Homo sapiens: one gene and its partner. The protein of the gene in region 2 purifies or fractionates together with the protein of the main gene of each other region. This does not show direct contact. Each region holds a gene or a part of one and is shown on either strand. Other genes may lie near its edges.

Region 1 (4,433 bases), on a different chromosome or scaffold from region 2:
GTCGTGTTTGGTAAGGACATTCTAAGGAAATTAGGAAGGCGGGTGCAGGGAAGAAAAAAATGGTATTCATACCTCCTCCTCCAGAATATCACAAGCCAAATGGATGCGGGACACGTCTACTTGGTGGGGCTCTGATTTTAACTTCTTGGATCGTAAACTCCAAAGTTTTATACAGGAGTTGTCAAACCCAGCAGCAAGCAGCTTGCTATCGGGGGAGATTTCTGCAGTGTTCAACAGCTGCTCTGTGTTATAGAAGGCATAGAAGCAGATGGTAGTGAGGGAGGGAGGCCCATCCTTGACTCGCTTAATGCTCTCCTGTAAGACCTCTAGGGCAGCCTCGTTCTGCAGAATAGGGCTGGGCATGTCGGGGGGCTCCAAACCGTTGTTCTCACTGCGGGAGGAGCTGCCACTGGCATACAGCTGATAGTCTGTTCTCTTGGCAGGCTGCACGTCAAGATGAATATGTAAGGTGAGGACTTTGCACAGGGCAGTATTGTTGTCACTTTGGAGGTAGCGGATAAGGTAGTTGTAGCTGTCTTCTTGGAGACGGACCACGTACTTGTTATCTAGGAATGCTCGAAGCTTGAAGTTAGATAGGATGTCCTGGATGGTTTGAGTGGTCTGTAGCTGCTCAATGACATCCTTCTGGCTAGCATTCTGCAGAAACATTCCATGGAAGCGGCTGTAAAAACTTTCCACTGTGCTCTTCGGACTGTTTTGGACCAGGTTGAGATGGAGGTAGACAAAGAGAGGATAGAGGAGAGGCATCACTTCGTGGCTATGCTGGGAATCAGAATCTATAATGAAAGAAAAAGAAGGCTTTATAATCAGCATAATCTTACAGAATAACGTGATCCCTCCTGGGGATCACCACCATCATATAATGCTTTCTTGCCAGGACCCCATTTTTTAAGAGTACTGATTGAACTATAAGCCCAACACAGGATTCTGGAATTTCAAAGGCCTTTTGATTGAAGAAAGAGCATGAACTCTGAAGTCCAGCAAATCAGGGCCTGAAGTTGGGCACAACGCAGGAACTTAATGCCCAGAGTGGTTAAGTGACTTGCCAGAGTTCACAACAATACAGTGGCTTGTACCCAGGTCTTCAAGATTTAGTATTTTTTCCCAATATGTTAGTGTTTCTTCAAATTGGGGACCTCAGATATCTGAGGGTACTTAGACATATTCTTGGAAGATTGAGTTCTTCACAATTTTTTAATGTGATGATAATATAAAAAATAATCAACACACAGTATATTCAGAATTATCTGGATGTCCGCTTAACAAGTAAGTACTGACAAGTGATTTTAGTGCTCTAGTTTGTGTTTTGTGATTACTTTTGGCATCCATTGTCTCAAGTAAAATCAAAGCACTTATTTTAGTGGGCTCATTAACATGTCTGGTTATACAGGCTGGCGTGTCCTGTGTTAACATGACAGCCTTCATTAACAATTGTCTCATCAGCATATTCATTCTGATTTTGTTGGTTAACAAGTTAAATTCTCTTTTGCAGTGATAATTTACAAATAAGACCATTTTACGTCATTAAGACTCAACTACTTACTAACTTGGGAGTTTAGCGCCATGAAACTGTAAGACAGAGAATGTTATTTAAAAGGTGTACAGCTTGAATTCATGGGTGAATGAGAAAAGAACAGAGGTATAATTGACACCTAAATAAGTGCTTAAGGCATGCTGTGAGGGAGCAAAGGTTTCGATGTGATTCATACACAGTGGGGAGACAGCAGGGCCACTGCAGGGCAGAAGCCCCCCAAGGAGCTGAGACCAGCCCGTGTCACAGTCACCAGTGCTGTCCAGATGCCTGCTTGCAGTAGCAAGGTAGTTCTGGCAAAATCCATCCGTTACATTCACTCAGTGTTATTTTCAACTTGACTGCCTTTGGGGTTTTGCTTGTCCCTTATCTGTAATGAGTCTGGGTTTCATAAAGAAATATAATAAGCATAAAGGTTTTAGATCTAGTGTAATGTTTGTACATATTTAAATAAATTAAAATAAAAATGTTTTAAGTCAGCACTTATGTTCTGGTAGCATTTTTTTTTTTTTTCATGAAAAGGCATCAATACAGGGTTTAAGACTGAGGAATACTGCATCAGAGAATCTTGCTCCCTAATTTGATGATAAAAGATATCTGCATGTTATTTCTGCTTAACACCCTATTTCACTTTATCACAAGGTGAATGAATCTGCTGCATAATATTCATAATATGCATTTTAGAATAAATGTATCCCTACTCATTATTTAGAGGATGAAAAATTACAATCATTCCACTGAACTGGAAGTTAAGACAGCCACCCAGCCACTTTGGGCTCCTCACACCTCTGAATCAATAGGCAAGGAAGGGAGTTACAGTGTTGGCTGGGGTAATTGATCCTGCCCAAGAGGAACTGGAACTGCTACACAATGGAGGTAAGGAGGAGTATGTCTGGCTTAAGGAGATCCCTTAGGACATCTCTGTACCCTGCCCTGTGATTACAGTCGATAAAAATGACAACAATCCATACAGGACTATGAATGGCCCACACCCCTGAAGAATGAAGGTTTGGGTCACCCCACCAGGTAAACCACGATCAGCTTGCGAGATGAGTGCAAAGGGAATACAGAATGGGTAGTGGAAAGAGGCAACCATGAATACCAGCAACCACCATGTGACCAGCTACAGAAACGAGGACTGTAATTGTTGTATTTCTTGTTTTGTTACGAATGTTTTGGTGTGAATATCTATATATAGATATATAAAAAGAAAATATCTTCGCATTCTTTCCTTTCTCGTTCCCTTATCATGGAACATCGGATTACTGACTTTATTTTTTTGAGATGGAGTCTCGCTCCGTCACCCAGGCTGGAGTACAGTGGCGCGATCTCGGCTCATTGCATCCTCTGCCTCCTGGGTTCAAGTGATTGTCCTGCCTCAGCCTATTGAGTAGCTACAGGCGTGTGACACCACGCTCAGCTAATTTTTGTATGTATATATATATATATATGTATTTTTTTTTTAGTAGAGATGAGGTTTCATCATGGTGGCCAGGTTGGTCTTGAGCTCCTGACTTTAAGTGATATACCCATCTCAGCCTTCTGAAGTGCTGGGATTAAGGGTGTGAGCCACTGTGCCTGGCCAGATTACTGACTCCATATCATAGTATTTAAGTATTGTTAACTTTACCTCACCGTATCAAAATTATGGAATATCACGGAGAGGAGTAAACATCATCCAAGGACTTTGCATTCTCCTCCGGGGAAAAGGTTAGTGTGTTTTTTGGTTGTACACAGGATAATTTTATTAGGTTAGGTGGAAGTATGAACTTGTTATTCTCTTTATTTGGAGATTAAGTATGGAATAAGGAGATGCATACAGGTGCCAAGTTAATAAGGAGTGGACTTGTGAGGTTACTTTTACATGTCAAACTGTGGGGGGGCCCACGGCACACAGATATTCAGTCAAACATTATTTTAAATGTTTCTGTGAAGGTATTTTTTTTTTTAGATGAGATTAACACATTTAAGTCAGTAGACTTTGAGTAAAGCAGATTACCTTCCATAAAGTGTGGGCCTCATCCAATCAATCAATCAATCAGTTTAGGCTTTAATAGAAAAAGACTTATCTTCCCCTAGTAGAAGGAATTCTGCCAGCAGAGAGCCTTTGGATTTGAACTGCAACACTAACTCTTTCCTGGGTCTCCAGCCTGCTGGCCCGCCCTGATTTTGAATGTGCCAAGCCTCCACAATTGCATGGAACAATTCCTTAAAGTAAACCTCTACATATCCATCCTGTTGGCTCTTGGCTGTTTCTTTCGAGAACTGTGACTAGATTTTGGTTTTTCTTTTCCCTTTGTTTTTTATTGGGATGAAGGATTGTTTTCAATTCCTTAGAAACAAAATTTCAGGCTCCTTTTCTAAAATGAGAGGCATTTCAATTGAGTAAGTTTAGAAAAAAACCTAGCTATCAAGAAATAGTGATGTACTACTTTAAAACTTACTGAAATTCACTGTTGCTTCAGCTCATAGGTTCAAAATTGCTTAATTGCTCTCTCTTGTCTGAAGAGAACAGTATGCTGGGTATAAAACAAAAAAACTGATCAATTTGGAAGAAGGTGAGATTCAGAATTCTAACTCCCATTTTAAATTATTCCCTTGCAATCTAACATACTCTGTATTTTACTGAAAGTGTACTCACTTAAAATATATTTTTTTCTAACTGCAAAAGTAACAAACATATCCTCTGAAAGTACACTTTTTCTTCCTTCTATCTACCCACTGAAATGTAATGAATGCCTACCTGGTGCCCAACTCTACTGGCGGTAAATGAGAGAACAATGGAGTTTTTCATGAGTTCATGGAAATTAGTAGTAAAAAGGATACTAAATTAAACAAAACTAATCCTGTCGGTCCTCATTCTCCTCTACCTTTCTTCAAG
Region 2 (5,368 bases):
CTTCATTCTAAGAGTTTTTCATGAAGCAACACTTCTTTAATGTTGATAATTTTTTCTATGCATCACACTTTTAAAGTCATGACAAGAACTTTTCATGAATCCCTAGGGGCCAAACATTTTCTCCTGTTTCTCCTGAATTTTTTATAGTTTTCTGTTTCACATCTAAATTTATTACCTATATGGTACTGACCTTTTTATAAGGTGTAAAATTTAAGTCAAGGTTTTTTTGTTGTTTGTTTTCACCTGTGTATCCAATTATCCCAGCCTCATTTGTTGAAGATGATCCATCCTAGATTGAACTGCTTTGGACTTTTGTCAAAAAATCAACTCACTGTACTTGTGTGGGGTTATTTCTTGGTTCTCTATTCTGTTCCACCGATCTACATATTTATCCTTCCACCAACGGCAGTGATATGGTTTGGCTATGTCCCCAGCTAAATCTCATCTTGAATTCCAATGTGTTGTGGGAGGGACCCAGTGGGAGGTAACTGAATCATGGAGGGGCAGGTCTTTCCCGTGCTGTTCTCGTGATAGTAAGTCTCACAAGATCTGATGGTTCTATAAGGGGGAGTTTTCCTGCACAAGCTCTCCCTCTCTGCCTGCCGCCATCCACGCAGAATGTGACTCGCTCCTCTTTGCCTTCTGCCATGATTGTGAGGCCTCCCCAGCCATGTGGAACTGTAAGTCCAATAAACCTCTTTCCTTTGTAAATTGCCCAATCTCAGGTATGTCTTTATCAGCAGCGTGAAAATGGACTAATACAAGCAGTTTCTATTATTGTTCTGTATGTCTTAAAATCAGTTACAGTGATTCCTATTAAATCTTTCTCCATTTTGTTTTATCTATTCTAGTCCTTTGTCCTTCCTTTTACATTTTTGAATAATCTTTTACATATCTACAAAAATCTTGCTGGGATCTTGATAGGAATTGTGTTAAATCTGTACATCAATCTGGGGAGAAATGGTATATTTATTATGCTGAGTCTTTTAATCTATGAATACAGTATTTATTTAGATCTTACTTTCCTCCATGTCAAGGTTTTTTCTGCATTAGTCCTAGTATCGGGCTGGGCGAGGTGGCTCACGCCTATAATCCCAGCACTTTGGGAGGTCAAGGTGGACGGATCACAAGGTCAGGACTTCGAGACCATCCTAGCTAACACGGTGAAACCCCGTCTCTACTAAAAAATACAAAAAATTAGCAGGGCGTGGTGGCAGGCACCTGTAGTCCCAGATACTCAGGAGGCTGAGGCAGGAGAATGGCATCAACCCGGGAGGCGGAGGTTGCAGTGAGCCAAGATCGCGCCACTGCACTCCAACCTGGGTGACAGAGCAAGACTCCGTTTCTAAAAAAAAAAAGTCCTACATATCTTTTCTCCATTTTAGACTAACATCTCTCTTTTTATTTTTTGTGTAAGTTTAAATGATACTGTACTTTTATTTTGGTTTCCACGTTAATTGCTAGTATAAATACAACTGGATTTTATGTATTAAACGTGTACATTCTTGCTGAACCTAAAGTTCAAGATTTTTTGTGGATTCCTTGGGATTTTCTATGTCAACTATTAAGTCATCTAAAAAAAAAAAGGACAGTTTTATTTCTTCCTTTGTGGTTTGTAAGCCTTCTATTTCCTTTTACTACCTTATTGATTTGGCTAGAAATTCCAGTACTATCTTAAATTACTATAGTGACAGCAAACACCCTTGCTTTGCCCTGAATATTCGGGTGAAAATATTGTGTTTCACCATTAACTTTGATGCCAGCTATAGATTTTTTTGTAGGTGCTGTTTATCAAGTTGAAAACGTTTCCCTCTATCATTCATTTTCTGAGTTTCTTTCACGAATGAGTGCTGAATTCTATCATGTTTTTTTCCTAGTAGCTTTTTTTTTTTACCTACTGACAGGACCAATTACACTCATGACTTTCAAACATTGATCCAACCTTGTAGCCACAAAATAAACTGCACTTGTTCATGGTGTATCATTCATTCTCTCTCCCTCTATTCTCTTTTTTGCCTTCTCGTGGGGTAAACATTTTTTATAATTTCATATTTATTTACCTACAGTATTTCTGAGTTTGCCTGTTTTGTATAACTTTTTAGTGGTAGCTCTAGGTTTTACATTATACATTTACAGCTTATTGTAGTCTACTGATTATCAACATTTTACCAGTTCACATAAAGTATACAAATCTTACTTTCCTCTATGCTTCTTTACCTTTCCCCATTTATAACGTAATCACAAATATTTCCTACACATACACTGAGAACCACACCACGGTTATGCTTCAAATTCCAAACACAATTTAGAAAATAAACGAATACTAAATTGACCGATATTTTTGCTGTCCATTCTTTGTTCTTCCCTCCTGATGTTCCCACATTTCTTTTGTCATTTCCTTTCTGTTTGGAGAATTTCCTTTATTTGTTATTTTCATAGAGTAGGTCAGCTGGAGATAAATCATGTGAAGGAAGTTTTCACTTGATATAAAATTCTGAGTTGATAGTCCTTTTCCTTCAGCACCTGAAAAAAATGTCCTGCCACTTCCTTATGCCCTCCACAATTTCTGATAAGATCCACTGTCAGGCCAGGCACAGTGGCTCATGACTGTAATTCCAGCAAGCGTGAGGGAGGCCGAGGCGGGCAGATCACCTGAGGTCAGGAGTTCAAGACCAGCCTGGCTAACATGGTGAAACCCCGTCTCTACTAAAAATACAAAACTAGCCAGGCGTGATGTGGCATGCCTGTAATCCCAGCTACTTGGGAGGCTAGGGCAGAACTGCTTGAACCTGGGAGGCAGAGGTTGTAGTGAGCTGAGATCACACCACTGCACTCCAGCCTGGGTGACAGAGCAAGATTCCATCTCAAAAAAAAAAAAAAAAAAAAAAAAAAAAAAGATCCATTGTCACTCAAATTGTTTCCCACTACAGGTCAAGTGGTATCTCTCTTACTATGCTTCTGTCTTCAGTTTTCAGAAGTTGGCCTGGATGTGTCTTAGCATCTTTGTGTTTATCTTCTCTGGGTTTATGCTGCTTCTTACGTCTGAAGGTGTATGGCTTGCCAAGTTTAGGAAACATACAGCAGTGATTTCTTCAGACACGTTTTCCCCCCACCCCGTCCTTCTCTCTTTCTAGACCTCTGATGACAGATGTTGCATCTTCTGTTAAAGTCCCACGGGCCCCTGAGGCTCTGCTCACTTTTTTCCAGTCTATTTTCTCTCTGCTGTTCAGATTGGGTAACTTCTATTGTTCTATCTTCAAATTGACAGCTTCTTTTGTCTGTCCTCTCCTTTCTGCTGCTAAGCCATCCACTGAATTTATTTCACATATTCTATTTTTCACTTTTGAAATTTTGTGTTTCTTTTTTACATCCTGTATTTTCTTCCTGAGGCTATTTGTCGTTTGTCTCGAATGTTAATTGGTTATTGAAGCATTTCTACAATCGCTGCTTTAAGGTCCTTGTCAAATAATTCTAAACTCTGTGTCATCTCTACGTTGGCATCAGTGGTCTTTTCTTACTGAGGTTGAGATTTTCCTATGAGTGATTTTCCATTGAAATCCTGACATCAGACTCAGGATCTGATGTAAGTCTTCTGTTAGAGCAGGCCTCTGCCAGGTGGATGTGGACGGTGAGGTGGAAGTTGAGATTCCCACTCAGCCTCCACGGACCCCTGCATGAGAAGGAAAGTTCAGCCTCCTGCCGAACTTCCACTCCCACCACCAAGGCTGAATCAGGGCTGCCTCCGTGCTGCTCCCTATACAGTCTCCCCCACACCACAGGGGGGTGGCCTCATGACCACAGGGCAGCAGTAAAGTTCCTGAGTTTTGCAAGGTCCCTCTTATGATACCCTAGCAGAAAGGAGGCTGTGCTCTGTCACCACCCAGCAGAAGTAAAACCCCAACTCCTCAGCCAGTCTTCTCTGACAGCAACCCTGCAGAGAGGAGCATCTCATCCCAGCTTGTCATGAGTGGGAATCTGAAGTACCTGCTCAGCCTCTGATTAGCAGGGTGAGGGTGGTGCTGCAGGGTTTCCTGTGATATTTAGCTGGAGGAAAGTACTTACCGCCGAAAAGTTCTCTGATTAGCAGGGTGAGGGTGGTGCTGCAGGGTTTCCTGTGATATTTAGCTGGAGGAAAGTACTTACCATCGAAAAGTTCTGTGATTTGTAGGCTGCCCCTTTCCTGGTCTTTCAGACACAGAGAGCAGGCTTTTCTTGGGCCTTGTTTTGTCTGAGTCCTTTTATACCTGCGCTGCTAGCTTATCCAGCACAACATATGAGATACATGAGGCAAAAAGAAAACTCACAGAACTAAGTTTGGTGTCATTTCTGTGGTCCCAATGTACGAAGGAAGTCTACCTTCTTTTCTCCATCTTTCAGTCTCTTTTTTTTTTTTTTTAACAGAGTGTCGCTCTGTTCCCCAGGCTGGAGTGCAATGGCACAATCTTGGCTCACTGCAACCTCCACCTCCTGGGTTCAAGCAATTCTCCTACCTCAGCCTCCCAAGTAGCTGGGACTACAGGTGCCCAACAGCACATCTGGCTAATTATTGTATTTTTAGCGGAGACAAGGTTTCACCATATTGACCAGAGTGGTCTCTAACTTGTGACCTTGTGATCTGCCCGCCTCAGCCTCCCAAAGTGCTTGGATTACAGGCGTGAGCCACTGCACCCGGCCCACTCTTACATTTGTTTTATATATGTCCAGTGTTTTTAGATGTACTTCATGGGAGGAATAAGGAAAAATAAGTCTCCATCTTTCCGCAAGCAGAAAGCCAAGAATCATCTTTTATTCTCAAATTGCATATGTGTAGGCCTATTTTTAAAGGAGAAGTAAGTCTTGCTTTACAACATAAAACAGTTACTTTGTAGTTTATGGAGTATGTTTTGTAAAGGAAAAAAAGAAACCACATCAAAAGCCTGTGAAAGCTGTCCTGATATGGCCTCAGAGAAAAAGGGAGACTCTATCTTCAGTTAAATGAAGCAAATAAAACCAGCAAAGGGTTTCCCTTCCCTCTCTTAAGAACTTCATCTGTAGAAACATTCTGATGCATTCCAGACATTCTACAAGTTCGTTACCAAAAATGCAGAGATTACAATATCACCTTTCCTTTCTCATCAAAATTATAAGTTTTGGATCACTGATTTTATCTCACTGGCTATTCCAGCCTCTCCGTAAGTTGCATGGTGTTCTCTTTGGTTTAGCTTGCTTTCTTCGCCACTTCACAAAATAGTCAATACCGCCGGCAATCTTTTTCTGCTGATCAACTACAACCAAATGTATGCATTTCCTACAATCACCTCCCTGGAACTTGGCACCAAATACAGATTTTTTCATACTGGAGTAATCTTATCATCTCTGTATTCACACC

Evidence for each region.
Region 1: the proteins of WDR37 (region 2) and TAF5L purify together in Homo sapiens (affinity purification with mass spectrometry, with the first as the bait; one large-scale study listed by BioGRID). This does not show direct contact.

What each region holds. Positions count from the first base shown.
Region 1 is NC_000001.11:229,602,123-229,606,555, forward strand, and holds part of TAF5L (TAF5-like RNA polymerase II p300/CBP-associated factor-associated factor 65 kDa subunit 5L), read right to left. Parts: exon of another isoform or gene 4,296-4,433; intron 4,072-4,295; exon of another isoform or gene 3,997-4,071; intron 798-3,996; coding exon 73-797; coding exon of another isoform or gene 67-72; exon of another isoform or gene 1-66. UniProt on the Homo sapiens protein: Functions as a component of the PCAF complex. The PCAF complex is capable of efficiently acetylating histones in a nucleosomal context. The PCAF complex could be considered as the human version of the yeast SAGA complex.
Region 2 is NC_000010.11:1,062,112-1,067,479, reverse strand, and holds part of WDR37 (WD repeat-containing protein 37), read right to left. Parts: intron 1-5,368. UniProt on the Homo sapiens protein: Required for normal ER Ca2+ handling in lymphocytes. Together with PACS1, it plays an essential role in stabilizing peripheral lymphocyte populations.